Regions from separate parts of the Homo sapiens genome. Here all the other regions are reported to be linked to region 2. Evidence: microRNA targets listed by miRTarBase, many of them from high-throughput screens and not tested one by one. Region 2 holds a microRNA gene; each other region holds the end of a gene's coding sequence. Distances are between the middles of the regions.

Evidence for each region. Region 2 holds the annotated microRNA hsa-miR-4747-5p (AGGGAAGGAGGCUUGGUCUUAG, at 1,968-1,989, opposite strand). A microRNA usually pairs through its seed, bases 2 to 8, with sites in the 3' UTR of a target mRNA and lowers its output. Matches are read on the target gene's strand: a 7mer-m8 pairs with bases 2 to 8, a 7mer-A1 pairs with bases 2 to 7 and ends in A, and an 8mer does both.
Region 1: the mRNA of UNC119B is a reported target of hsa-miR-4747-5p. Seed matches in the 3' UTR shown: 7mer-m8 at 773-779.
Region 3: miRTarBase lists ARHGEF18 as a target of hsa-miR-4747-5p. Seed matches in the 3' UTR shown: 7mer-A1 at 3,790-3,796, 7mer-A1 at 3,565-3,571 and 7mer-m8 at 2,380-2,386.
Region 4: the mRNA of MARVELD1 is a reported target of hsa-miR-4747-5p. Seed matches in the 3' UTR shown: 7mer-m8 at 3,766-3,772, 7mer-m8 at 3,503-3,509, 7mer-m8 at 3,418-3,424, 7mer-m8 at 3,384-3,390, 7mer-A1 at 3,033-3,039 and 7mer-m8 at 483-489.
Region 5: the mRNA of RBPJL is a reported target of hsa-miR-4747-5p. Seed matches in the 3' UTR shown: 7mer-m8 at 1,323-1,329.
Region 6: miRTarBase lists OLR1 as a target of hsa-miR-4747-5p. Seed matches in the 3' UTR shown: 7mer-m8 at 1,267-1,273.

Annotation. Positions count from the first base shown.
Region 1 is chr12:120,719,773-120,724,289 of GRCh38, reverse strand. UNC119B (unc-119 lipid binding chaperone B) reads right to left here. Exons shown (of 5, transcript NM_001080533.3): 5 at 650-4,370. The coding sequence ends at 4,258. It overlaps MIR4700 (microRNA 4700), which reads right to left and starts at 1,097; the gene lies at 1,024-1,097.
Region 2 is chr19:4,930,676-4,934,675 of GRCh38, reverse strand. MIR4747 (microRNA 4747) reads right to left here and starts at 1,989; the gene lies at 1,936-1,989. It overlaps UHRF1 (ubiquitin like with PHD and ring finger domains 1), which reads right to left. Exons shown (of 17, transcript NM_001048201.3): 4 at 3,800-3,960; 5 at 1,720-1,935. RefSeq lists an enhancer at 3,596-4,000.
Region 3 is chr19:7,469,513-7,474,621 of GRCh38, reverse strand. ARHGEF18 (Rho/Rac guanine nucleotide exchange factor 18) reads right to left here. Exons shown (of 29, transcript NM_001367823.1): 28 at 4,593-4,718; 29 at 2,144-4,496. The coding sequence ends at 4,324. Among named protein-coding and RNA genes, the nearest start is that of PEX11G, 17 kb to the left of the region's middle. RefSeq lists a silencer at 1,418-1,467.
Region 4 is chr10:97,713,128-97,718,236 of GRCh38, reverse strand. It overlaps MARVELD1 (MARVEL domain containing 1), which reads right to left and starts at 4,507. Exons shown (of 2, transcript NM_031484.4): 1 at 2,252-4,507; 2 at 87-1,043. The coding sequence starts at 4,360. The coding sequence ends at 3,839. RefSeq lists a silencer at 3,616-3,835 and an enhancer at 4,146-4,195.
Region 5 is chr20:45,315,925-45,321,033 of GRCh38, forward strand. It overlaps RBPJL (recombination signal binding protein for immunoglobulin kappa J region like), which reads left to right. Exons shown (of 12, transcript NM_014276.4): 10 at 263-418; 11 at 553-656; 12 at 762-1,900. The coding sequence ends at 1,035. Among named protein-coding and RNA genes, the nearest start is that of MATN4, 10 kb to the left of the region's middle.
Region 6 is chr12:10,155,714-10,160,822 of GRCh38, reverse strand. OLR1 (oxidized low density lipoprotein receptor 1) reads left to right here. Exons shown (of 6, transcript NM_002543.4): 4 at 1-37; 5 at 361-476; 6 at 802-2,522. The coding sequence ends at 943. Among named protein-coding and RNA genes, the nearest start is that of OLR1, 14 kb to the left of the region's middle.

The DNA.
Region 1 (4,517 bases), not on the chromosome of region 2:
TGATGGGTAATAAAAGTATTCATTTGTCAAAATGCATCAATACTCTTAATTGAGGTAAATTTTACTGTAGTTAAAGTATTTCTTAATAAGCCTACCTTTATGGCCAGCCACAGTGGCTCACACCTGTAATCCCAGAACTTTGGGAGGCCAAGGCGGGTTGATCACCTGAGGTCAGGAGTTCAAGACCAGCCTGGCCAACATGGGGAAACCCTGTCTCTACCAAAAATACAGAATTAGCCGGGCGTGGTGGCATGCACTTGTAATCCCAGCTACTTGGGAGGCTGAGGCAGGACAATCACTTGAACCCGGGAGGCGAAGGGTGCAGTGAGCCACCATCATGCCATCACATCCCAGCCTGGGAAAAAAGAGCGAAACTCCATCTCAAAAAAAAAAACCCTACCTTTAAAACATGCATGTAAACTTTCAATTTACAAAGCCACTCACCCTGGGAAAATATAAAGCAAAAATATTAAGCCTAAAGTCCAGTACAATTCCTCAATCACCCTAGAAGCCAGCTATACTCTAGTTCAACTACTTACAGAAGGGCCACATAATAGCCAAAGTAAGAGAAACCTGGAGCCCCCATTCGCCCCTGCTCCCCTCAGCAACACAACGGGCCCAACAATCAGGAGACAGGACGAGGGAGACGTACTGTGAAAATCTTTCTTTTATTACTGTCTCATGTGGCAAAATAACATTTTATACAAATAAGTCACCTAGTTTACTTTGGACACAAAGACAATAAAAACTGGAATGTGATTTTGGGGGAAGCGGGAAGGAGGAGGAAGGACAGATCAGGTCATTGATGTTTCTTATATTCTGTAAAAAATAGATTTACAGGAAAAAAAATAGACTTTCACAACTTCAATGACTTTACACGGTCCTTTGTAAAACCAGTGGTAAATCCACCTCCACCAAATCCTTCTTGAGGCTGATATGTTCTGTGACATGGAATGTGAGTAACACAATGGTTCAATGATTAGGCTCCTACACCAGGTACAGCAGCACCTGATGCCACAGGAATCCTCGTGCACTGGGGTGAGGAGTCAGTCCTGTGAATTTCAGGACACACTGTCCTCATCCCCAGACCTCACTGACATCATAGTGACACTGGCCATCAGAAGAAAGTGACTTTACAGAGGGGAAAAGAGTATCCTGGAAGCGTACCGGTGGGGCAGGACACACTAAGGCAGGACTCACCCAGTTTGTACATTAGACACAGCCTATTAAATCCATTCCAGAAATGAGTTCCACTTCAACTGAAAAAATAAACTGAAGATTGCCCAATCACTGCCATTTCACAAATTTCCAGTTTATGGTCAGCCCCAAAATCACATTCTTCCACCCTATGTATTGGAAATCAAATGGCCCAAAGACTGAGGTGTCTTCAGGAAGCACATGCTTGAAAAATGTTTTCTCTGCAAAACAGTATTGAGTAATACATAAGGAGACATAGCCTACTTTAGCCCAAAACTTCTTTCACTTGTTATGTCCTTTTACCTCTTAAAACATAGAATGAAATAAACTCGGATCTTCTTTGGAGAAGCTAGAAGGGCATTTTGGCCCAAAGGCTGTACAGGAAAAGAGAGGCTCTCTCCAGGAGACTGCAAGGCAAAGGAACAGAAGCAGGAGGGGCAGGCCCTCTGGCACCAGGTGGGCCTGCTACTCTGATGAAATGTGCTCCCAGCTCTTGACAAAGGGCAGGGTCTCCTATGCAGGTAGTTTTTTTGCCGCCTCCCATTGTATCACCCACAAGGTAACTGCTATCAACAGTTCAGATTCCTTAATAACATGGCAGCCTGAATGGTTCTGTTACTTTCAGAGAAAGTATGCCTTGCAATTCTCTCCCCAACTCAGGTACAAACGCTTGAATTTCAAACTCATACTGGTTTACACCCCAGAGTGGAATGCTTCTCAAGATTTCCTGAGCAGCTAGACACAGGAACCCACAGCCCCAGATACAGAACACCAGACTTTCAGAAGCAGCAAAGCCCTGTCCTGCTGGGCATGGACCAAGCACTATCCGCAAATGGTCTCCAGTGAGACTAAGGCAAGCTAACAAGGAAGAGGATACAGCACAACTCAAGCCAGATTGCCCACCTCCTCCTTCCTCCACATCCTCTTTCTAGCAAAAGCGAACACTGCAGATAAGAGATAGCCCACTAATGTAGCAGATACAGTGTGCCCAGGGGCATGTTTCCAAGACACACTCTACTAAGCACAGCTCTGGGCAGCTCCAGAACCACATCCCAGATAATACTCAAATATCAAATAGTAGAAACTGTCCCACCTGGGCCTCTGTCAAAGAGAGAAGGGATTGTTGTTACGCTTGACAGGAACATGCAAATCCCATTTGAGGAGCCACAATGAGAAACAGAAGGTGAGGAGACAGTGCTAACAGCCCTGGCATCTTTCTGCCAGTGAGGAGGTGGGAACAATGGCAATGCAGCTTTCCCCTGCAGCATAAGGGACAGAGCCACACGTAAGGCACCTGGATTTACAGTGGACGCCAGTTCTGAGAGTGGCCGGTCTGGTGATAAGGAACCCACTCCACAGGAGGAATGGTCTCTCCCCTCTCTCGGGGCTGAATCCAAGGCCAGCACACAGGGGTAAGCTAGGACCTTCTCAGTGAGAAAGCTGCCAGCATGTGGCATTGCCAAGACTCTGGCCTGGGACAAAGCACTGGGCCAAGGTTCGGGGCCACTCGCCCTAAAGCCCACACAGGGAGCAGCACTGGTGGTGGATGGACAGGAATTTCTGTGGCCACACACTGTCTCTTCCATCCCTGGCCCCCATACGGCCTTTCTCCCAAGCACATCAGGACACTCTCCTGTCACAGGTACTGTGACACCTCACAGTCACTTACCAGATACCTGGGCCTTTCCTAGTGACATCCTTCTACTGATGCTAACTGGACCCTGGCCACATCAATCGTCTCATCAGAGGGTTTGTGGAGTCTGTCCACTAAGGGTCTGAGGACAAAAGCAGCCCACAGATGTGCAAGTGAACTTTTTTGAGAACACATCACTCTGACAGGCCACATCAGCCTATTTTGCCCTTTCTGAACACCTAAAACAATTCTAACTAGCAGTCTGAAGGCTCAGACTGCATTACGTAACTCTGATCCACCAGGAAAGTTCCAGAAACTACTTCAGTAGAAAGGTAGATAGGAAAACCCTCCTAAACAAGAAATGTACAAAGAGCTTCGGAGGCAAATCCCCATCAAAAGCCAATCCTCCAGGCTGTGCAGTGCAGAGAAAAGTCAAATCTCTCCTTTAGAAAGCTGCTGCTGATTCGTAAGCATATCCTCCCAACATAAGCCAGATTAGCCCCTGGAAGCTGATACTATCAGAAGTCTAACCACATATCACATATGCTGGGAACACCACTGTCATTTTATAAAACCTCCCCGAAAGAAGTCTGGAAATAAAAAAACAAAATACAAGACCTGCTCTGGCCTCAAGAGATACTACTGTTCCATGAGCAGAGCTGACTCATTCTATTTCATGAGACTCAGAAGGGAGGAGCCAGGAGATGTGGAGCAAGCTTGTCTGTCCTCCAAAATGGGAACAGAAGGCACTGCCAGGCTGAAAACTTGGTCTATTCCCAGGAGGGCTGGCTGAGACCCTGGAAGTCAGACAGAGCAGCAGCCTCTCCACAAAGCAGACCCTTCAGCTTGGCAGCATCACCCATTCCTTGGTGCCTCCACTCTTGGCACCTCCCTCCCTCCCCACCCTTTCAAGTGTCTTCCAGTTGGTTTAAGACTTCACACAGACCGAGGGCAGACTGCGCTGATGGCAATGCCGGAGGTGAGAGGAGGAGCTACCTGGAAGAGGCCTACCTTTCAGCTTCCCACAGCACCCAGGAACCTTAAGAGCTGCTGACCTGCTGGTGGGCCTGGCCAGAGCCTTCTCACCAGGCACAGCTATGCCTGGTCGTCAAGACAACCAACAGGCAGCCAGAACTACGGAAAATAAACTTTTTTATCTGGATTCCAGGACCCTTATCCTAACCTTTTACTTTACTATAGTACCTCTGCAACCTACGGGGCAGGAAAAAAAGGGAAGAAAAAATACTGGGGAAGAAAACACAGCACTGTTTGGCAGCTCCTTTGGCGCGCAGGAAACTGCCACCCCAGCCTTGGCTTCCTGGGGCCAGGTTCCAGATGTGTGTTGACAAACTGCAGCTTCGATCATCTCCGTGTGCCAGGATCTTGTGGCCGCGGCAAAGCACCTCCCCTATCTACTCTTGCAGCACTTACTGGCCTCCATTATAGGCATAATCAGCCTTGTTGTGCATTATCAGCTTGTTGTCAACAAAGTAGAAGCTGTCAGAGCGGGTCTCGTAAGGATTTTCAATCATTAGACGAACTGCAAGTCAGGCAAAGGGGGAAGAAAAAAGCAAAGAATTATGTTTGAGTCTGCCCCACAGGGTAGGTGGGAGAAAACTTTGCATCCCCTCCAAAATAAGCCAGCGCTTCAGAGTATACTCTGCCAGAATAACGATGAGGTCAGAAC
Region 2 (4,000 bases):
GACAACACGTCACGTACTATCACTCGGCCACAAAAAGGAGGGAAATTCCGACCAGGCTACAGCCTGATGCACCTCAAGGACATCACACTCAGTGACGTCAGTGAACAGATGCAAAGGACAAATCCTGTGTGATCCCATTCCTAGGAGGTCCCCCGAGTTGTCAGATTCACAGAGATGGAAAGTAGGATGCAGAGGTGTCAGGGGCTAGGGAGTGAGTGTTTCATGGAGTCAGAGTTTCAGTTTGGGAAGAGGACAAAGTGCTGGAGATGGTTGCGTAACAACGTAAATGCGTTTAATGCCACCGAACTGTGCGCTTAAACATGGTTCCAATGGTAAATTTTTGGCCGGGCGCAGTGGCTCATGCCTGTAATCCCAGCACTGTGGGAGGCTGAGGCGGGCGAATCACTTGAGGTCAGGAGTTCGAGACCAGCCTGGCCAACATGGTGAAACCCAGACTCTACTAAATATATATATATATACAAAAATTAGCCAGACGTGGTGGCGGGCGCCTGTAATCCCAACTACTTGGGAGGCTGAGGCAGGAGAATCACCTGAACCTGGAAGGCGGAGGCTGCAGTGAGCCAAGATCATGCCACTATACCCCAGCCTGGGCGACAGAGGGAGACTCTGTCTTTTAAAAAAAAAAAAAAGGTAAATTTTCTGTTACATACATTTTATCACACACACACACACACACACACACGCACACACACACACAAAGAGGCAAGGGAGAAAGAACAGGCTTTGCAAAATGATTCTGCAAATGGCCAAATAGGAAGGATTTTCAGCTTTGTAGGCCGCATAGTCTCTGTTGCAACTACACAACTCTGCTCTTATAACACAAAAGCAACCACAGGTAATAAGATAAAAATGGGTGTGACCACGTCCCAATAAAACTATTAGTCAAAGCCGGCAGCGGACCACAGCAGGCCTGTGGACTGCAGTTTGCCAACTCCTAAGCGGTGTGGTTTGGCGTGTATGTTTATGAACAGAATGTCCCTGGAAAGTTGGTAACAGTGATGTCGCCAAAAAGGGGAACTGGGTGACCAGGCAGAGGAGGGAGAACCTTCATGTGTGGTCTTGGGTGCTTTCTATTTTGACCCTGTGAATGGGACCTATTCACCAAATTTGAAACAAACAAGAGAGAAAAAGAAAGCTTGAGGCCAGGCACGGTGGCTCACTGCCTGCAATCCCAGCACTTTGGGAGGCCGAGGCAGGCAGATCACGAGGTCAGGAGATCGAGACCATCCTGGTTAACGGTGAAACCCCGTCTCTACTAAAAATACAAAAAAATTAGCCAGGTGTGGTGGTAGACGCCTGTAGTCCCAGCTACTCGGGAGGCTGAGGCAGGAGAATGGCATGAACCCAGGAGGCAGAGCTTGCAGTGAACCGAGATCGAACCACTGCACTCCAGCCTGGGCAACAGAGCGATAAAAAAAACACCATGAGAAAAAGGAAGTTTGACAACTCTGCCTGTCAGGGCCTGGGGGTCAGAGACAGTTCCCTGGGCAGAGGCACTCAGGGGCACAAGGTGGTCGGTCTTAGAAAGATGCTCAGCAGTGAGCAGGAACAGACCCCAGAGGGGAGGCAGGAAGGCCAGGCCGGAGGCTAAGGGCCTCGCACACACAGCGCTGGCTGGACGGCTTCAAAGCCAGTCCGGGGGCCCCGGGAGGGGAGGAAAGGAGAGAGGAAGGGCTCGCCCCAGGACGCGAGGCTCACCCCAGCACCACGTTGGCGTAGAGTTCCCGCGCCGTCCTGGTCTCGCGCTTCCTGGAGATCTCCGCGTCGTACCAGAAGCCCCGCTCCTTGGGGTTGTCGGGGTTGTAGTTGAGCATGACCACCTGGCCCACCTCCAGGTCCTGCCACTTGATGATGGTGCGGGCGCGCGCTCGGACGTCCCTGGAGTTCATCTGGACCACGCCGTTCTCCGGGTAGCTGGGAGGAAAGCCCGGGCCTTAGACCCCGTGCTAAGACCAAGCCTCCTTCCCTCAATGGGAAACGAGCCGAGGTGGGACGGCCCCTCCCGACAGTGTGCAGAGGCCCCTCCCAACAGGCTTATATGCTGGTGTTGAGAACACACAGGTATATTAAGGCACATTCCAGGTACAAAATTGTTATGGGTTGCCCGTGTCCCCTGCAAAAAGAGATGTTCAAAGGCTGATCCCCAGTACCCACGAATAGGATTGTTTTTGGAAACAGGGTCTTTGTAGATAGAACCTTTGCAGATGAAATCATATTAAGATGAGATCACACTGCAGTAGGGTGGGCCCCAATCCAACAGGACTGGTGTCTTTAGAACAAGAGGAGAGGCCGGGCAAGGTGGCCCACGCCTGTAATCCCAGCACTTTGGGAGGCCGAAGCGGGAAGATCACCTGAGGTCAGGAGTTCAAGACCAGCCTGACCAACACGGTGAAACCCTGCCTCTACTAAAAATACAAAAATTAGCCAGGCATGGCCGGGCACGGTGGCTCATGCCTGTAATCCCAGCACTTTGGGAGGCTGAGGCAGGCAGATCATCTGAGGTCGGAAGTTGGAGACCAGCCAACATGGAGAAACCCCATCTCTACTAAAAATACAAAATTAGCCAGGCGTGGTGGCGCATGCCTGTAATCCCAGCTACTCGGGAGGCTGAGGCAGAATTGCTTGAACCCGGGAGGCAGAGGTTGCGGTGAGCCGAGATCGCGCCATTGACGCCAGCCTGGGCAACAAGAGTGAAACTCTGTCTCAAAAACAAAACAAAAACAAAAATTAGCTGGGCGCAGTGGTGCACGCCTGTAGTCCCAGCCACTTGGGAGGCTGAGGCAGGAGAATCGTTTGAACCCGGGAGATGGAGGGTGCAATGAGCCAAGATCACACCATTGCACTCCAGCCTGGGGGACAGAGTGAAACTGTCTCAAAAAAATAAAATAAGCTGGGCACAGTGGCTCACACCTGTAATCCCAACACTCTGGGAGGCTGAGGCGGGCGGAACACGAGGTCAGAAGTTTGAGACCAGCCTCACCTACATAGTGAAACCCCATCTCTTCTGAAAATACAAAAATTAGCCAGGCGTGGTGGCCACACACCTGTAATCCCAGCTACTTGGGAGGCTGAGGCAGGAGAATCGCTTGAACCTGGGAGGCGGAGGTTGCAGTGAGCTGAGACCACGCCATTGCACTCTAGCCTGAGTGACAGAGTAAGACTCTGTCTCGAAAAAATAAAATAAAAATAAAATAAAATAAAAATACAAACATTAGCTGGGTGTGGTGGCGGGCACCTGTAGTCCCAGCTACTCAGGAGGCTGAGGCAGGAGAATCGCTTGAATCCAGGAGGCAGAGGTTGCAGTGAGCAAGTCAACCAATGTCCGTGTTTAAGCCACACCGTCTGTGAAATCTCACGATGGCAGCACGGACAGACGCAGCCACCATCTGTGTCCACTGGTGTGTGGACCCCGAACTTGGCAGGTAGGAAGTGCCCAGTAAACACTTGTGCAAAGACTGGAGACTGACGTTAGGGGTGGGGATGAGGGAGAGATGACAAACCCGGAAGATGGAATAAAACAGAAAAACTGATGGGGTGGCAGTTTCAGCCACTGATCGAGCAGAACCCTCCGCGGAGACACAGGAGGGGGCAGCCGGCTTCGGGTCCCCAGGCTAGTCCCCAAGTGGGCAGCCTCGTATGCTGTTAGGAATTCGAGGATGGGGCCCCAGATCCTGATCACCATCTCGAGACAGTGCCAAGCTCTGGCCTGAACACCCGCAGCCAAGGATGCGCGTCACAGAGCCTGAATACCCAGGCCCGCCCACCTGCCATGACTCACTCGTCGTATTTCACGTGGTAAATGACGTCCTCCTCCAGCGCCGGCCTGGACGTGGAGCTGCAGGGCTCGTCCCGGGAGGGGGCCTTCCGCGTCACCCTGACCACCTGCGCCTCAAACCACGCCCCCATGTTCGTGTCCCGAGCATCGACGTACTCATTGACCTGTGAGGAATGAGGGAAGTCTGGCATCCCAACGGGGTGA
Region 3 (5,109 bases), 2.5 Mb from region 2:
CAGATCACCTGAGATTAGGAGTTCAAGACCAGCCTGGTCAACATGGTGAAACCCCATCTCTACAAAAATGCAAAAATTAGCCGGGCATGATGGTGGGTGCCTGTAATCCCAGCTACTCGGGAGGCTGAGGCAGGATAATTACTTGAACCTGGGAGGCGGCGGTTGCAGTGAGTCAAGATAGCGTGCCACTGCACTCCAGCCTGGGTGACAGAGCAAGACTCCATGTCAAAAAAATAAATAAAAATGTAATAAATTAATTACATCCTTTTTTTCTTTTTTTTTTGAGACGAAGTCTCACTGTTGTCCCCCAGGCTGGAGTGCAATCGTGCAGTCTCGGCTCACTGCAACCTCCGCCTCCGGGTTCAACCGCTTCTCTTGCCTCAGCCCCCAGAGTAGCTGGAATTACAGGTGTTTGCCACCACGCCCGGCTGATTTTTGTGTTTTTAGTAGAGATGGGGTTTCAACATGTTGGCCAGGCTGGTCTCAAACTCCGGACCTCAGGTGATCTGCCTGCCTCGGCCTCCCAAAGTGCTGGGATTACAGGCGTGAGCCACTGCGTCCAGCCCTTTTTTCTTTTTTTTTTAAATTTCATTTCTTTTTTCTATCCCCCAAATTTCCTTTTTTTTTTTTAAGCTCTTATAGACAGGGTCTCACCATGTTGCCTAGGCTGGAGTGCAGTGGCACGATCATAGCTCACTGCAACTTTGAACCCCTAGGCTCAAGCAATCCTCCTGCCTTGGCCTCCTGTGTAGCTGGGATTACAGGTGCACGCCACCATACCTGGCTAATTTTTTTTTTTTTTTTTTTTTTTTTGAGACGGAGTCTCGCTCTATTGCCTAGGCTGAGTGCAGTGGCGCAATCTCGGCTCACCGCAAGCTCCGCCTCCTGGGTTCACGCCATTCTCCTGCTTCAGCCTCCCGAGTAGCTGGGACTACAGGCGCCCGCCACCACGCCCGGCTAATTTCTGTATTTTTAGTTGAGACGGGGTTTCACCTTGTTAGCCAGGATGGTCTCGATCTCCTGACCTCGTAATCTGCCCACCTTGGCTTCCCAAAGTGCTGGGATTACACGCGTGAGCCACTGCGCCCGGCCAACCTGGCTAATTTTTTAATTTTTCTGTGAAGGGGTTTCACTATGTTGCCCAGGCTGGTCTTGAACTCCTGGGCTCAAGCTATCCTCCTGCCTCAGCCCCCGCCTCCCCAAAATGCTGGGATTACAGGGATGAGCCACTGTGCCCGGCCCTCCTTTTACTTTTTTAATATGGCTACTAAAAATGAAAAATTCCACACGTGGCCTGCATCATCTTCCTGGTGGACAGTGCTGCCTGAGAGTTCCCTTTTTGCGCTTCCTAGTGAGCTAGTGATCGACTTTACACCTAGTCCCCTTGTGATGGGAAACCCTCTGTTGAAACAGCAGGGTCCTCGCCTCACTGGACCGGGACTCAGACCAGGTGGAAATGATGATTTCATACTCATGGCCAAGCTGCCTCTCACCCCAGATGGAGGAAGTGAAAGTTCCAGCCTTTGCGGTTATTGTGGATTAAAAGCAAAAAGATTTTCGTGGAGGCGCCACCAAAGCCTGAAGTGTACCCGGTGGGCAGGACCCTCCACAGGCACCTCCACGCCCCACTCCTGCCCTGTGCCCGTAATCCCAGCACTTTGGGAGGCTGAGGCGGGCAGATCACTTGAGGTCAGGAGTTCGAGACCAGCCTCGCCAACATGGCGAAACCCCATGTCTACTAAAAAAATACAAAAATTAGCTGGGCGTGGTGGTGCACACCTGTAATCCCAGCTACTCAGGAGGCTGAGGCAGGAGAAGTGCTTGAACCCGGGAGGCAGAGGTTGCAGTGAGCTGAGAACCTGCCACTGGTCTCCAGCCTGGGCGACAGAGCAAGACTCTGTCTCAAAAAAACAAACAAACCAAAAAAACAGAAACAAAAACAAAAACAAAACCCCCAACAACTCCTGGGGACTGGACCTGAAGGGGTCTTCAGAGCGTTAAGCAGGACACGGAGGGCAGGTGAGCGAGCTGAGGGGCAGGAGCCATGGGGAGCCCCCAACAGAACCTGCTACTCCTGCAGCAACGTTTGGGCAGAAGAAAATCCTCAAATAAAACCTCCAAGAACGTGCACGCCAGTCACCGCTCATCTCGGACACGTTTATTGCTAGAATCAGGTCTTAAGTTCTAAAGCGGGTCAGAAATATCCCGCAGTGAGGAAATGTTGTAATCATTGTAAAAATAATTAGCAGGTGACTAAGATCATGACCACAACTGACAAAGACGTGTGCAGATCCCACGAAAATAGGAACATTTGCTCGACTGTCAACTTTACAAATAAAATCGGGCTCCAACCCAGGAGTGGCCGAGGGGCACTGGCGAGGGAAGGGCTGTCGGCGCTGCCGCCCGATGCCTAGCACGACTGAGACCCCTCTGCCACATGGCGGGGACGCGGGGTTCCCACCGCGTGGCCGAGCAGAAATTCCTTGAACTTCTCCCCCATCCAAGGAATTGTGGCATCTCGGAGGGCTGGACCGGCACACGCCGGCTCAGGAGGGTGCCAGGGTCTGGGAATGTTCTCTTCACAACAGAACAGGAATGTACAGTCAGCTTCTGTAAAGTGCTCCGATACTCAGTACAAAAATACAAAACACTGATGATAAACATGGCACACATGGGATCTGACGGGGGGCGGACAGCGTCGCTGATGGCCAGGGACCGGGCTGGGCAGAGTTGAGGTCGTCGGAGGGGCCAGGAGCCTGGGGACACCTGGCCACTGTGTTCTCAGGACCTTGTCACCAATGGGCTGTATGGCTGTGGGGCTCTGGTTCCCGGTTGGCACCAGCTCCTGCCCCGCCCCCTCCTGAGCCCACAGCACCCAGTGGGCGCCTCTGCCCAGGGGAGCACTTCCTGATGGAGTTTCCCCTCCCTTGTGCCCATCTGTCCCCGAGTGGCGGGAATGTCCCTGTTCACTGTATTCAGCGTCACAGGAGTGCCTCTGCCAGCACAGTGGGAGAAGGGCTGAATCCCCCCGGGATCTGCAGTTCCCAGGACCCTGGGTTCGGGAGAAGGACTTGGCCCTGGCAGGGGCTCACATGTACCCCACTGGGAACAAGGACGATCAGCCAGGACCCAGTCCTACCACCAATGCTTGGGGTGCAGAACAAGGCTTGACATGGGCCCTTTCTCCACCGGAGCTGGATCGTGGATGGATCTCACCACCCTGGGATGTCCCAGCACCTTTGATGCTGCCCAACACCTCCTTCCTCCACCCCTCCAGGGAACGGACCGTAAGCTGCAACAGCTCACTACAAGCGAGGGGCCCGCACAGCGGCCACTTGTCCACTTGCTGCAACGTCTCTAGGTGCATCCTCTGCATGCCCTGGGACATGGCGCTCTCGACAGTCTGTGATGTGCCAGCCCCCACCTGGAAGGTGGGACGCCAGCCCTGGGAGCTCATTTCCCGGGGGCTGAGGACCCTGTGCCCAGGGTGTGTACCCGCCCTGGCTGAAGCTAGAGGCCCGCTCCCCCAGACAGGCTGAGCGTGTGAACAGCAACGGTTGCCCTTGGGAAGCAGAGTTTGGGAAACAGCTGGTTTCAAAACCAATGCCAAGTAAAAAGGGGCAAAGGTCAGCCCCTTTCACGATGGGCTTCCAAACCCACAGAACCTGACTGGAGGGCCACTGATGTTCCCTCAGTGGGCCCTGCCCCGTGGCCCTCTCTGCCCATGCCCCCGTGCCTGGCTCATTCCCTGACCCTGAGGTTCATGGTGAACCTGCGTGGGGCTCTGTTTGGGAAGTGGATTCTGCCTGATTCTGGGGACAGATGCTGCCGACGCCACCTGGCCCCTCCTGGTGCCCTAACCCTTGGCTCCACTGTCGCGCGGCGGCTGTGGAGCGTGGCCCCGGCCGGCAGCTCCTTCTCAAAGCAAGGTCTGTCCTGTCCTCAGCTCCGTGCAGAGCCGGCACCGTTCCTCACTGCCTCGGAAAAACAGCTCGGAGTTGATCTCCCCGCCACCCGGATGGGGTGCTATGATTTCAGACAGCTCCCTGGTTTAGTTCTGGCTCAACTTTCCATTAAAAACTTTCCTTTTTGAAAAAAAAAAAAAGAGATTCAGAAAGTGACCCCGGCACCACCGCTAACCCTACAGAAACAGCTGCAAGGCCCAGAGCACCGACAGGCTGGCCCCTGCCAGGCGGTCATCAGTGGTTTGCTAGGGAAGAGGAGGGGACAGCTGGGTGGGCATGGTGACCCCATGGGGGTCCCCAGAGAGCAGGAAGGGTGGGCAGGGCAGGGAGGGGCCTTGCACCTTGAGTCACGGCCCTTTTAGAAGAAGATGACGTCTTCTTTGCTGGCGTCCTCCTTGGCGCTGAGTGGTGTGGCCGGCAGTGGCGAGGGAGCTGGGGGCCCGGGCAGGAGGGCTGTGCCCCCGGCCTTGAGAGAGAAGCCCTCGGAGGGGCTGTCAGCTGGCGGTGGGCTCGGGGCGGGGAAGCCAGGGTCTGGAACAGAGAGAGGGTTCAGACTGAGCAGTCGCCGGGTGGTGCCGCAGCCCCGCTGCCCTGGGACTGGGCTCATGTCAGGGGGTGGGGGCTCACCTGGTGGGGGCGCAGGACTGTGTCTGCCGGGCAGGATAGGGCTCAGCGAGCGGCGGTTCCGTGAGGTGCTCTCATCTTTCCCCATGAGCTTGTTGAGCAGCAGCTGCTGCTTCAGGTCGAAGGACGCTGGAAGAGAGAAGGTATTTGGGCCAGCTCCAGGCTGGCCAGCTGTCCCCACCCGCCAGGGCAGCCTCCGAGAGCAGAGGGGCCTGGCCACCCCCACCTGACACTTCCCACGGGCGGCCTGGATCCCGTGACCTGAGCTGCTCAGATGCTAAGCCCCAGATTCAGGGAGAACGGCCCCAACCTCCCTGCGGAAGGACCTGCAGAGTCACCCGGCATCTGGAGAGGAGGCTGAGCCTCCTGTGGAAATAGCACAGGCCCTAGTGACCACGGGACACACCCTTAATCTTCAGAGAACATCCCAGAACATCCCTGGTTGTCCCCCAGGGAGGTGTCCCCCAGAGGAGCTCCTGGACATCCTCCGTGGAAACACTGGGGCTGCTCTGGGCTCCGT
Region 4 (5,109 bases), not on the chromosome of region 2:
CAGCAGGGCGTGAGGCACAATGAGATAGAATGGGAGGACCTCACATGGAGGGACGCTACAGAGGACCAGGACAGAAGACACACACACCAAGAGCAAACAACCAAACTTTATCCAGAAAAGCATATTTGTAATCACCACTAAACAATGAGGCACATCGGTCCCCTCTCCCCAACCACCCTCACTCTTCCCAAACCCACTCTCTCTTTTGGCTTTTATAGAACACTGTAGAAATCCTTTCCTGAGTCTGCAAATGGCCCCAGACTGGGATGGGAGCTGCCCAGAGTAGTCTTGGGCTGGACTGAGTCCTGGTGCCCAGAGAGGGAGACCTATGCAACTGCCTCCAGTATCCAAAAGTTCTGGGGGCAGGTCGGGTGGCCACCCCTATGGCACAGGGCCTTGAGGGAGGGTGAGTGTGGTGGCGGTCTTACGTGTTCTTCTCATACCTGGCAGACAGAGTGAGCACAAGCCGCTGGAAGCCAAGCGGGAAGGCACATCTAGAAGGGCAGTGAGCTCTGGAATGCTACAGGCACGTGTGGATGGATGAGGCTCCATGGCGGCCAAGGAGATATCTGCTCCTGAGTAAGGTCACCTGACCACAGACAGCACCAGGGGCTGGGGGGCTAAGAAGGAGATCTTGAGAAGGATGGACCTGAGCTAAAGATGTAACTTAGATGGTGATCTGAAAAAAGGAAAAAAGAATAAACGCTGGAACTCAAATCCACTGTTTAGGGTACAGGAGTACACAGCTAAGTTCCAGGTATCCAGAATCTTGTGTCCAAATCATAGCACAAGGAGAACAGGAATTCTCTTGAGTTAAGGCAAAATCAATCTTCACCCATCTGGGCTCTTCCATTGCATGGTTTGGAAAGGAAGGGGCTGGGCAGAGATCATTCCTCTCCCCATCTCCCCCTACTGCCAGTGAAGACTCTGAAAGCTTCTGCAGGCCAAGGCCAGAATGGTGTTGCCAGCCCAGGGCAGCGGGCCCTGAGAGCGGTCGGTGTGACCAGCTCTGGGAATCTCCATGGCCTCAGCAACATGGAAACCTGCAACAGGAGAACCAAAGTCAAAGGGCTTCCAAAGCACCCCAAGTGTCTCACCCCAGGCTCTCACTGCACCAGCACTTGGGGCTGAGGGGACTCCTAGTCTCAAGCCTCGGCCCCCCAAAGTGCTGGGATTACAGACATGAGCCACTGCGACTAGCTGTGAATGTTCTTAATGCCACTGAACTATACACTTAAAAATGGTTAAGATGGTAAATTTTATGTATATTTTACCACAATTTAAAAAATAGCTACATTAACAGTATCTAACATGTATTGATACCCTACTATATAGAGTATAGCCTGGTCATGAAGAGGCCAGGCTGCCAGGGTTCAAATCCTACCTCTACCACTCATTAGCTGGGAGACCTTGGGCAAGGTATTTAACCTCTCTGGGATTCAACCTCCTCATTTGGAATATGGCAATGACATTAGAACCCACCTCATTAGGGTTACTGAGAGAATCAATGGACACCTATAAAATGCTTTGAGACGTGCCAACCATATAATAGAGCTACATAGGTGCTCTGATGGCAACATATCTAGAACTACATTCATGCTTCACACACCCTGAAACTACACCTTTGCAGCCTCCACAGAGAAAGCTAACACCTGTGCACCTAAGCTTTAAAAACAAGCTCACAAAAACACGCAGCCTCCCCTCTTCTAGTTTCTAATCCAGAGAAGGTTGAGCCTTTTCAAACAGCAGACCTGGCCAGGCACAGTGGCTGAGATCTGTAATCCCAACACTCTGGGAGGCTGAGACGGGAGGATCTCTTGAGCCCAGGAGTTCGAGACCAGCATGCAAAATACAATGGGGCCCTGTCTCTACAAAAATTTAAAAACTAGCCAGGCATGGTGGTATGTGCCTGTAGTCCCAGCTACCCGGGAGGCTGAGGTGAGAGGATCGCTTCAGTCTGGGAGGTCGAGACTGCATTGAGCCATAATCACATCACTGCACTCCAGCGTGGGTGACCCAGTAAGACTGCCTCAAAAACAAAACAAAAGAGAAAGAAAAAATAAAAGAGCAGACCATTGAAGGATTTAGCAAAAAGGTTGAATTTTCACAACTCTGTAGATATTGTGGTTATTACCGTCACCTCTCCAACTTGCTCTGAATAAAAACCCTTTAACTTCTGGAAAAGGAGTAGGCTCTGTGCTTTTTATTCAAATGCCCAGGACCCCTTCCAGAAAACCAAGAAGCGTCTTACCTTACAGGCCCAGCCAGCAGGTCACCCCAGCGCCAGAGAGTGGTTCTTCTCTTTGGTAAGGGAGACCCACCCTGTCAGCTGCTCCAGATCAGTGCCGGGATCTCTTGCAGGTGACTTTCCTTTAGCCTGGGAAAACCATCTGAATAACTTTGGCTTCATTTCTCCAACAATGTAAAGGAATGTTCAAATTCCCCAGTTCAGGTCTCTGGCTAGAGGCAGCAATCTACTTCCTCACTGGGGTGGGTCCCCTCCCTCTGCTAGAGAATTCCCTGGGGAAGAAAGAGAAGGCGCCCCCCAAATCTTCAAACAGAACACAGCCAATGGGTTGGGCCCTTCGGCATGAATGAGAGCCGGGACAGCACAGGGATGCTGGGAATCTTAAGGTGGGAATACTGCTCCAGGCCCAGGAGCAGTTAATACAGCAAACTAAATTATTTCTGTAACAGCGGGACTTCTCAGTCTTTGATAAGCTAATGAGCATCTCCAAGAAAGGGAGACAGCACCGTTGACAAACCCATTTGGCCTTGAAACCCTCTTTTAGGAGAGGCGGCTCCTGAGCCAGGGGTCCTGACTCACCCACCCTTTTAATGCAAACAGCGCTGGACTGCAAGTCTGGGTTCCAATCTTACTCTGGCTGTTCCCAAGAGCAGGCTCTGGGTCCCCATCTGTAAGAAGGGGTGGGGTTCACCTTAACATTCCACCATGGTCGTGGAACTCCTAATGCAAACAGATATGGGGGAGGGTGGAGATGAGGGGGGCGGCAGAAGCCTGTGAGGAAGGCTGGGAAGAGACTTGTGTCACGGAGAGGCCAGGACAGTTAGTGTGTGTTTGGCACTGGCCTGCAAAAACCTTAAGGACAAAGGCGGAGTAGGTAGAGGCAAGAGGAGACTCCACAAGTGTAAGGGTACAACCCACCGGCTTCTCCTATCGGTCCCCACCTCGGCGGATGGGCCCCACCCCAAGACAACCGAGCACAGAGAGACCGGCTGGGAGGAGCTTCGCAGGATGCCAGCACAATCCCCAGCTAAAACCAAACTCGTCGCTCATCCTGGGACCAGCCAAGGCCTGTCCTCAGCTCCGCCCGCGGCCCAGCGCCTGCGTTTTACAGCACCGGAGGCTGGATGAGGGGCCAGGGAAGGGAGTGCTCTTCCGACCACGGGGCGGGAGGGAAGGGGGCAGCCAGAAGCCTGGTTCCAATTTGGGAGCCTCCCCCGGATCTGCGCGGCCCCTGTCCACGTCTTAGTCTCAGCAGGGAAGGGAAGAGGAACCGCGAGGTTTCGCCTCGGGGCGGCTCGTCTGCGAGTGTGTGTCAGCCCCTCGGATCGCAGCCTGCGCTTGTCCCGGGAGACGGCGCGTCCGGCGCGGCGGTCGGGATTCTGGGCTGGGATTCTGGGCGGCGGCGGCGCTGCCGTCGGGCGGGAGCTGAGCGTCAGGGTTCCCGGGCGCGGGCGACAGTGGAAACGCTGGAGGGCAGGGAGAGGGTGCCAGGGCGCACCCGCGCGGGGCGGCGGCGGGGGAAGGGATTAAGGAGGCTGGTCTCCGGGGATTCCCCCGCCCCGATCGGGGCCGCGGCGGGCGCGGGCGGCCTCACGCCACCTCCTGCTTGCCCTGGCAGCGACGCCCGCAGCCATAGAGCGCCGAAAGCAGGTAGAGGCCGTGGCAGACGCCGCCGCAGACGGCGGCCGCCAGGAAGGCGTGGTAGGCGCAGGGGAGCGGGTAATCCTTGAGGTTGCAGTAGCTGTGGCGCTGCATCTGGTCGCTCATGATGCCGGTGGCGGCGCCGTAGAGCGCGGCCGCCAGCACATCGTGCGCCACGTTGACCATGAGCCAGCGCGAGCCCAGCACGGGGACCAGCTCGTGCTTGCCCAGCAGCGTGAGGAAGTAGAGGCCCAGGGTGAGCAGCCAGAAGAGCACGGACACGAAGAGCGCGAAGTGCACGGGGCCCTGGTACTTGCTGGTGGCGATAGTGATCCAGAAGGCAGCGCCGGCCAGCAGCTGCAGCAGCCGCAACACGCCCAGCGGGCTGCGCAGGAAGGGCCGCTGCAGGCGCACCGCGCCGCGGGCCGCACGCGCCTGGGGCGGCGGCTGGCGCGGGGGCGGCGGGAGCATGGCCCCTGGGCGCGGTGGCGGCGGCGGCGGCGCCCCGAGCAGCGGAATGGCGGCGCCTTGCTCGCGGGGGCAGCACGGCCCAGGTGCCCGCTGCGCCCGCCGCGGCCTCCTCGCCTTGCTCCCCTCTTAGTCCTCTCTTCCTCTCCTCCTTTCCCCACCCTTCCTCTCCTCTCTCCTCCCCTCGGCCCTCCTCGCCTTCTGTCTCCAGCTCTCCACCCTTCCCACCCGCCCCTTTCCCTTCCCCTTCCCCTCGGCTGTCTCCTCCCCCGCGCGCTCCTCCCGGCTTCCTGCCATCTCTCTTTCCATCTCGCTCACCACCCTGGCGCCCCCCTTTCCCCTCTGCGCCAGGCCCCCAGCTCGGATTCCTTCGTCCTCGGGCCAGGGCAGGGCGCATCTCCCAGCCCGACGCGGGCCTTCCGCCCTGTCCGCCCGTGCGCTGCTGCGCCAAGTTTGCCACATCTGGGGCCGCCCCTGCCCGCCCTGCCTCCTCCTTTTCCCTCTTTCCTGCCATAGCGCCCACCCCGGGCCTCTGGGCTCTTCCTGGGCGCGGGAGGAGAGCAGTGCTGGTTTTGAACTGGCATCCACTGTCACCTGGACATCCGCAGTCTCCTGCCAGGGCCCGCCTCGTCCTGTCCAAAGCTGTCCGAGTTACCCATGTCGGAGTAAGAGTCCATCACCCACCAGAGGCACCGCCACTCGTTCCACTCGGCACAAGCTTATTGTCCACACCCTCTTTTATCCAACCCTTC
Region 5 (5,109 bases), not on the chromosome of region 2:
AAAAGAAAAGGAAGGAAGGAAGGAAAATAAAGAAAAAAGAAAGAAGAAAGAAGAAAGAAGAAATCAGCTAGCTCAACAAGCTTTCTTAACGCTAAGTGAGAGAACTTAAGGGCACTGTCCAAGCTGAGGGGACAAGTGAACCCCAGAGCCTAGGATTAGTATCCAGTTCGGTCTAACGCAGAAGCCCACGCGCCATGCTGGCTCCCTACACTGGTGGCCACCATGAGAAGCTTCGGCCTCGTCCCCTTGGGTCTCCTCCCAGGCCTCTCCCTGCCCCAAGGAGGCGAACAGGGCTCTGCTTAACGACAGCTCTTGCTGGACCATCATCGGCACCGAGTCGGTGGAATTTTCCTTCAGCACCAGCCTGGCGTGTACCCTGGAGCCGGTCACTCCGGTGCCTCTCATCAGCACCCTAGAGGTGAAGCCGGGCGCTAGGGGCGTTGGGCAGGGGGACCCTGCCTGCACTGGGCAGTGGTGGTGCTAGTGAGTGGGGGGCAGCGGGTTCCCGCCCTACTTGGTTCTCTCACCTCACCTGGTCCCACCCTCCCCCAGCTGAGCGGCGGGGGCGACGTGGCCACGCTGGAGCTCCACGGAGAGAACTTCCACGCGGGGCTCAAGGTGTGGTTTGGGGACGTGGAGGCAGAAACCATGTACAGGTACGGGGTGGTGAGGCAGCCTCTCTTGGGCCCCGGGGAGCAGGGGAAGGGGGTGCACGCGTCGTCGGAGTCGCCGCAGCCCTCACCCTGGTGCTCCACCCCCAGGAGCCCGCGGTCCCTGGTGTGCGTGGTGCCGGACGTGGCGGCCTTCTGCAGCGACTGGCGCTGGCTGCGCGCTCCCATCACAATCCCCATGAGCCTGGTGCGCGCCGACGGGCTCTTCTACCCTAGTGCCTTCTCCTTCACCTACACCCCGGAATACAGCGTGCGGCCGGGTCACCCCGGCGTCCCCGAGCCCGCCACCGACGCCGACGCGCTCCTGGAGAGCATCCATCAGGAGTTCACGCGCACCAACTTCCACCTCTTCATCCAGACTTAGGCGCGCCCGGTAGCCCCGGCTGCCCACCCTGGAGGGCTGCGCCCGCGCCAGGCGCGGGGACGTGTTTCTGGGTTCTAGGCCCTGCTTCCTTGCCCCTTTGCTGCAGAAGGGCAGCTGAAGGCTCACCCTAGAAACCGGGCCTGGTGGGTCTTACCCGGCTCACTCCCTCCCTTGTCCTTACACATACAGGAAGACAAGACCTGAGTGGTGCTGTCTTTGTGTCCGTCGTGTATGGCTCTCCCTGTCTTCATTTCTTCTCACTCTGTCTCTAAACCTCTCTCTCTCTCCCTTCCCCCTCAGTACTTAGTCTACAGACCTATGTGCGTGTCCCTATCCTTCTGTCCTTTTCTCTCTTCAGCTCTCCCTGCCTCTCACACACAATTTTACATGCCCCGAGGAGCCAAGTTTGGGACATTTACCCTCCAGGCATCTGTGTCCCCTCTTGAAGAGAAAACACACAGCTTCACACATCCAGGCATAGGGGGCAAGCTCTTGGGGCATCAGGACCCTGGAGCACCAGGTCCTTCCTGGAATATTAGATCCACCTGGAGCACCGGGTCTCTCTAAGTCTCACCTGGGGAATTCGGTCCCACCTGGGGCACCAGTTCCCACCTAGAGCACTGTGTCCTGCCCTAGAGCACAAAGACCTGCTCCTCCCGAGACTCTCTCTGACTGCAGCCAGGCATAGTACCTTTGCCTGTGTTTGCTCCCTGGTCCACAGATTTGGTGGCTGGGCAGGTGCCTGGACAGTGATGAGGTCTTGCCGCCTTAACTGTCCCCCCCAGTCACTTCTCCCACAGGCCCAGCAGGACGCAGTCCTGAGGATCAGGGATTCTACAGCTGCATTAAAATCAATCCTATCCAAGGCAGAGTTTGGTCTGTATGAGCCACCTCCCCAAGTGTGCCTCCCCCAACCCTCGCACCAACACACAAAAGAGGGGACCTGCACAGAAAGAAAAGAACCACAAGTCTGATGGAGCAGAGAGCCTACCTTTTGGACGTTTTCTAGAGGAGGAACAGGGTGCAGAGGCAGCTGGCATCCTGAGTCCCTGTCCCTGCCCTGGGGTTGTTACCCTACTAGCTATCTCTCCATCCCAAGCAAGGGTGCACCCCAGGCCCAGAGGTGACCACGGGACCCTTTCAAAACAAAGCTTTCCCAGGATAGCCCTGGGCAGAACTCCTGGGATTGACTGGGCAGTAATGTAGTTGAGAGGGGGGCCTCTCTGCATGGGGCTGATGGACAGAATCACAATCTATTCCCCACCAGCCTACCCACCCTAGGTACCACTCTACCCAGTCTGTGCTTTATAGGGAAGGAAAAAAAAACCAGGCAGAACACTGGCTTGGGCTATTGGAATCAAGGACACAGATAAGTATCATGGGTGCCAGCTACCTGCACCAGCCTCTGGTGGTGCCTGATGGGAAAACTGGTCTGAAATGTGGGTTCTAGGTTCTAACCCTCTGGAGAAGAGCTTGCCCTCCTAAGGAAGAGCTCATTTCTTGTAAAACTCCTCCCCCAGGGTATGGAAAGTCCCATGAGAAAAAAGAAACGAACAATACGCAGAGGAGAGGAAATGGGGTATGTTCTTTAGCCTTCCCAAAGTCTTGACTAAGTTCTGCCATCTGCCATCAGCAGGCTGCAACCCACTGTGAGGGGTGAGGAAGAAGCCTGTGGCCCCTGAAGGTGAATCTTGGCTGAGGAAGGCAGCAAATGAGTTGAATGGGAAATGTCCCTGAAATGAGCGCCTGACTCACCGTCCATGGTGGTGTTGAAGCAGGCAGCCAGGAGGGAGGAGGCTGAGAAGAGTGTCATAGCGCACCACATGGGGAATTGGGGCTCAAGCGCTCATCGTCCAGCCCTGCCCCCAAAGTCTTCCTCCACCACTCCTCAAGGCAGGAGTCCCAGAAGCCAATAATCTAGGTTGGACCAAAAGCCCAGACCCAGCCATACAGCTCTGTCTTAGTCCTCACCCATCTCAGGGGATCCTATAACCTTTGGTGTCCCCAAGGTATCCATCTGGAAGTCTGTGACCAAAGCTCCAGCCCTGGCCTAGCTTCTGAGTTCCAGCTGCTGAAACTGTCCTTGGAGGTCTTCCTTGCACTGAGTCTGAAGCCATCTAACATCAAACTCCTTTCCCTCTCCACCTGCCTTGCAGCACCACCTCTAGCTCCTTCCCCCACACCACCCAGTCACCCAGGCCTAAGGATCCCACCCCCACTTCCACACTACCATATGCCTCCTGTTTTCCTCTCCCTCCACTACTGCCCTGCCAGGTCCTGTGTCGCCTCTTCCAAAATTTCCCAAACTACTCTAGGTAGAACTAGCTATATAATTTGTGGGCCCCAGTGCAAAATGGCCCGTTGTTCAAAAATTATTCAAGAATTTCAATTCGACTGAACACGGGATTAAAAAAAAAAAAAGAACTTCAAGACAGCCACAGGAAATGATGAAACCAAGTGCAGGGGCCTTCCAAGCACAGGCTGCACAACCACGAAGCCAGCCCTGGCCCCAGGCTTTTTTCTTGTATTCCCACAGACCCTCAATGGGACCATATCGACTGCCTGCTTTGGATCAAAGGTTTTACCTACATGCCCATTGTCTCCTCTAGGCTGCCATCTTCATGGGGAAAGGAGCTCTTATCTCTGCATGTCCTAAAGGGTGCATCACAATGCCTCGCATGTTGAGTTGGTGCTCAATAAACAGTGAATTGCATTATATGGCATTGGCAGATATTTAGATATTGCTAATGCAAAGTGAAACCGGCAGGTGGCACTGTTCTCCACCCGAGCATTAAGTTCTCATTTTATTTATATTTAAAAACCGGGCCTTAATCCCAGCCCTTTGGTAGGCCGAGGCGCAAGGATCACTTAAGCCCAGGAGTTCGAGACCACCCTGGGCAACATAACAAGACCCCCTCCCCCATCTCTACAAAAAAATGTAAAAATAGGGCCGGGCGCAGTGGCTCACGCCTGTAATCCCAGCACTTTGGGAGGCCGAGGCGGGCGGATCACGAGGTCAGGAGATAAGAGACCAACCTGGCTAACCCGGTGAAACCCCGTCTCTACCAAAAAATACAAAAAATTAGCCAGGCGTGGTGGCGGGCGACTGTAGTCCCAGCTACTTGGGAGGCTGAGGCAGGAGAATGGCGTGAACCCGGGAGGCGGAGCTTGCAGTGAGCCGAGATCGTGCCACTGCACTCCAGCCTGGGGGACAGAGTGAGACTCCGTCTCAAAAAAATAAAAAAATAATAATAATAATTAGCCGGTGTGGTGGTGCACGCCTGTAGTCCCAGCTATGGGGTGGGGGCGGGGGGATGCTGAGGAGGGAGGATCACTGGAGCACAGGTAGTGGAAGCTGCAGTGAGCTGTGATTGTGCCACTACACTCCAGCCTGGGTGACAGAGGGAGACCCTTTGGGGGTTTATGCACAGAATTCTACATACTTCCAGGGAATTTCCTAACACTAAAACCCATTTATGGATTAATTTAGTCCTCTTTATATTAGAATCATTTGCCACGCTATAAAAATTAATATACCGGGCCGGGCGCAGTGGCTCACGCCTGTAATCCCAGCACTTTGGGAGGTCGAGGTGGGTGGATCACCTGAGGTCAGGAGTTTGAGACCAGCCTGGCCAACATGGTGAAACCCTGTCTCTACTAAAAATTCAAAACATTAGCCAGGCGTGGTGGCGTGTGCCTGTAATCCCAGCTACTCAGGAGGCTGAGGCAGGAGAATTGCTTGAACCCAGGAGGCAGAGGCTGCAGCGAACTGAGATCACGCCACTGCACTCCAGCCTAGGGTCTCTCCAGCAGAGTGAAACTCCGTCTCAAAAAAAAAAATAATACTAATAATATACCGGCCACGCCATGGAACAATTCTATTAACATCTCTGAGTGTGGAGCTCAGGCATCTGTATTGTTTGAAACCCTCCCATGTGAATCTAGTGAGCAGCCAGGGTTAAGAATCATGGCCCTAGTCAGTATTTCCTCCTCATTTTATAGATGGGGAAACTGAGGCTCCAAGAGAGGAGGCTAAGGTCACAGCAGATGGCAAAGCCTACAATTGATTCAAAT
Region 6 (5,109 bases), not on the chromosome of region 2:
TGCCAAGTTGCTGAAAATTAATAGCACAGCTGATCTGGTGAGTGTTCATGGATATTTGTTGGGGTGGAGTATTGGTTGATAGGGAAATTAATCTGGTTTAAACTGTCACTGGAGGAATTCTTGTTTGAGAGCCAAAATGTCTGTTTTTTTAGCTTAGTCTGATCACCAATTTTGTGTATGACCTTGGACGGACAGGCTCTGTAGTATCTCTAGCCTTCAGTAAGTGTTTCCGTAAAACAGTCAAGGGGATGTCAAAGATACCTTTTGGTTCTTTAGTTTTGTGGATCCAACACTAACTGACTTTCAGATTCTAAAACCACCATGTGGATTCCACAAACTCAGAAACATTACTCCCCACAGGACTTCATCCAGCAAGCAATTTCCTATTCCAGTTTTCCATTCTGGATGGGGCTGTCTCGGAGGAACCCCAGCTACCCATGGCTCTGGGAGGACGGTTCTCCTTTGATGCCCCACTTGTAAGTTTCCCATTCTTTTTGATGCCTCTCTCGTCAGTTTCCTATTCTTTGCTGAACCTGCTAGTGAGGTCACTGCCTGCATCCCACCAATGTCCTCTTCTTGCCAGAGAGAAGCTTGGGGGAATTTCTCAAAGTCTCCTTCCTTACCTCTTTCACAAAAAGATTTACTCATTAACCATTCAGACATTTTCTTGAGTTTTCCTTCCCACATTTATTACTGATTGGAGGCTTTAAGACAAAAAGTTTCAAAAGCTAAGTTTCTGAAACAAGGTGGCAGTAAACCTAAGTTTTTTTGTTGGTTTGTTTTGTTTTTTCCTACCTGCAGATTTAGAGTCCGAGGCGCTGTCTCCCAGACATACCCTTCAGGTACCTGTGCATATATACAACGAGGAGCTGTTTATGCGGAAAACTGCATTTTAGCTGCCTTCAGTATATGTCAGAAGAAGGCAAACCTAAGAGCACAGTGAATTTGAAGGCTCTGGAAGAAAAGAAAAAAGTCTTTGAGTTTTATTCTGGAATTTAAGCTATTCTTTGTCACTTGGGTGCCAAACATGAGAGCCCAGAAAACTGTCATTTAGCTGGCTGCAGAACTCCTTTGCAGAAACTGGGGTTCCAGGAGCCTGGCACCTTTATGTCAACATTTTTGATTCTAGCTACCTGTATTATTTCACCTAGCTTGTCCCAAGCTTCCCTGCCAGCCTGAAGTCCATTTTCCCCTTTTTATTTTAAAATTTGACTCCTCTTCAAGCTTGAAAACCCTCTGAACTCAGTCTTCTTTACCTCATTATCACCTTCCCCTCACACTCCTAAAATTGCATGAAAGACAGAACATGGAGAACTTGCTCAAGTGCAGGCAGAGAGCAAAAAGGGGAAATATGTCTGGGAAAAAGTGCACGTGAAGAAACAAAGAAGGACAGAGGCCATTCCGAAATCAAGAAACTCATGTTCTTAACTTTAAAAAAGGTATCAATCCTTGGTTTTTAAACTGTGGTCCATCTCCAGACTCTACCACTTACGGACAGACAGACAGACAGACACACACACACACACACACACACATTTTGGGACAAGTGGGGAGCCCAAGAAAGTAATTAGTAAGTGAGTGGTCTTTTCTGTAAGCTAATCCACAACCTGTTACCACTTCCTGAATCAGTTATTATTTCTTCATTTTTTTTTCTACCAGAGGACAGATTAATAGATTTAACCCTTCACAACAGTTCTTGTTAGAATCATGGGATGTGTGGCCCAGAGGTAAGAATAGAATTTCTTTCCCTAAAGAACATACCTTTTGTAGATGAACTCTTCTCAACTCTGTTTTGCTATGCTATAATTCCGAAACATACAAGACAAAAAAAATGAAGACACTCAATCTAGAACAAACTAAGCCAGGTATGCAAATATCGCTGAATAGAAACAGATGGAATTAGAAATATATCTTCTATTTTTAGGCTTCTATTTCCTTTCCACCCACTCTTCACAGGCTATTCTACTTTAAAGGAAGCCTTTTTATTTTGCTGCACACAATCTAGCAGGAATCTTTTTTTTTTTTTAAGAGCTGTGTCATCCTTATGTAGGCAAGAGATGTTTGCTTTTGTTAAAAGCTTTATTGAGATATAATTAACATAAAATAAACTGAACATATTTAAAGTGTACTATTTGATAAGTTTTCACACCTTGTGGAGAACATGCATACTACAATTAAGAGAGTGAACATATCCATCATCCCTCAAAGTGTCACAATGCTCCTCCTGATGACTCCTCCCCAGAAAACCACCAATCGGCTTTCATTTTGCATTTTGTAGTTTTATGTGAATGGAATCATATAGTATGTCTTTTTTTTTTGTCTGGCTTCTTTCACTTTGCATAATTATTTTGAGATTCATATGTCTCCATCTTGATGCTCGTATGAATTCATTCTTTTAAATGTTGAATATTCCCTTGTATGGATATACCACAATTCATTTACCCATTTACTTGTTGATGACATTTGGGTTGTTTTAGTTTTGGGATATTACAAATAAAGCTGCTGTGAACATTTGTGTACAAGTCTGTATGAACATAGGATTTCTTTTCTCTTGGTTAAATACTTAGGAGTATAACGTCTGGATCACACAGTAGGTGTATGATTAACTATTTAGGAAACTGACAAACTCTTTTCCAAAGTTGTACCATTTTTCATTCCTACCAGCAGTGTATGAGTGCTCCAGTTCCATCTCATCCATGCCAGAATTTCATATGGTTCGTCTTATAGTTTTAATGATTCTAGTAGATATCGAATGGTATATCCTCATAGTTTTAATCTGTGTATCCTACAAATTTCTGTTTGTTGGTTTGTTTTTGAGACAGAGTTTCGCTCTTGTTGCTCAGGCTGGAGTTCAGTGGCACAATCTCAGCTCACTGCAACCTCCGCCTCCTGGGTTCAAGCAATTCTCCTGCCTCAGCCTCCCAAGTAGCTGGGATTACCGGCGCCCGCTACCACTTCCAGCTAATTTTTGTATTTTTAGCAGAGACGGGGTTTCACCATGTCGGCCAGACTGTTCTCAGACTCCTGACCTCAGGTGATCCACCCACCTCAGCTTCTGAAAGTGCTGGGATTACAGGCGTGAGCCACCGCCCCAGGCAAATTTTTATAAGCTTATTTACCATCTGTATTAGGTAACTTTGATAAAGTAACTGTATAAATCTTTTGAGAATTTTTACTTGGTTTATTTTTCTTACTGTTGAGTTTGAGAACTTTATATATTTGGGATAAAAACCTTTTATCAGATATGCATCTTGAAATGTTTTTCTTGTCTTGTCTTTTTTTTTTTTTTTTTGAGAGGGAGTCTCACTCTGTTGCCCAGGCTGGAGTAGTGCAATCCCAGCTTACTGCAACTTCCGCCTCCCAGGTTCAAGTGATTCTCCTGCCTCAGCCTCCCAAGTAGCTGGGATTACAGGTGCCCACCACCATGCCTGGCTAAGTTTTTGTATTTTTAGTAGAGATGGGGTTTCACCATGTTGGCCAGGCTGGTTTTGAACTCCTGACCTCAAGTGATCTGCCTGCCTTGGCCTCCCGAAGTACTAGGATTACAGGTGTGAGCCACCGCCCAGCCTGTCTTTTCATTCTTTGAACAATATACTCATAAAGCAGAAGTTTTTTATTTTAATGAAGTCCATTTTTATTATTCTGCTGTGGTTTGTAAGAACTCATTGACTAACTCAAGGTCACAAAAATTTTCTCCTTTATTTTTTTCTAGACATTTTATAGCTTCAGGTTTTATACTGAGGTCTATGATTTATTTGGGATTAATTCGACAAATGTAAATTTGTCGAAAAGACTATTTTTCTTTACTAAATTGCTTTTGCACCTTTATCACCAATCAGTTGTCTGTATATTCATGGGATTATTTCTAAACTCTCTATTTTATTCCACTGATTGTTGTATTTTTGTATTTGCGTATTTATACACCACCACCACATTATTTTGAATACTGTAGTTTTATAATAAATCTTAAAATCATGCAGTGACAGTCCTTCAAATTTATTTTTCTTTTGCAAAGTTACATTGGCTGAGCTATGTCACTATATTTTCCATATTGATTTTTGAATTGGCTCACTAATTTCTACAAAAACTCTTTTGGAATTCTGATTGTGATTACATTGAATCTACAAATCGATTTGGGCAGAATTGAAACCTTAAAAATATTGATTTTTCTGACTCTTGAATAAAGTATGTCTCTGCATTTATTTAGGTATTTTAAAATTTCTCTGAGCAATGTTTTGCAGTTTTCTCTTACAGATATTTTTACATATTTTGTTAGCTTACCATATATACTTCATAGTTTCGACGCTACTGTACATGGGAATTATCATTGATAATTTTAATTTCCAACTGTTTATTGCTAGTATGGAGAAATATAATAGACTTTTAAATATTCACCTTATATTCTGAAACCTTGATAAACTTATTTGTTTCTTCTAGTAACTTTTTTTGTAGATGTCATCAGATTTTCTACACAAATAATCATTCTGTGTGCCAGCGGAAGCACTTCTATCTTTTCCTTTCCAATGCTTTTATTCTTTTCCTTGCCTGAACCTCCCGTTCAATGAGAAATAAAAGTAGTGAGAACAATATCCTTATTTTGAAATTGATCTTGAGAAGAGATCATTCAGTGTTGCACCACTAAGTATGGTGTAAACTGTAGATGTTTCATAGACGTCCTTAATCAGTTTTAGGAAGTTCCCTTTTGTTCCTTGCATTCTTAGAGGACTGATCAGGAATAGGTGTTAATTTTGTCTAATATTTTTCTACATCTATTGAGATGATTATATATACATTTTTATTTTAAAAATATCTAGTATTTTCTTTGTTTTTTTTTAGGTTAAAAATTTCTAGTCTTTTAACATGAATTACACTCATTAATTATATAAGGTTAAAACAATTTAGGATTGCATTATATTAATGGATTAGATCTGTTATATGTATTATATTATGGGTTATTTCTGTTAAAATTTGGCTTAGAATGTTTGCAACTATATTTATGGGTTTTTTGTTTCTGTTCATTTTGTTCTGGTTTTTTAGAGGTAGAGTCTTACTCTGTTGCCCAGGCTGGACTGCAGTGGCACGACCACAGGTCACTGAAGCTTTGACCTC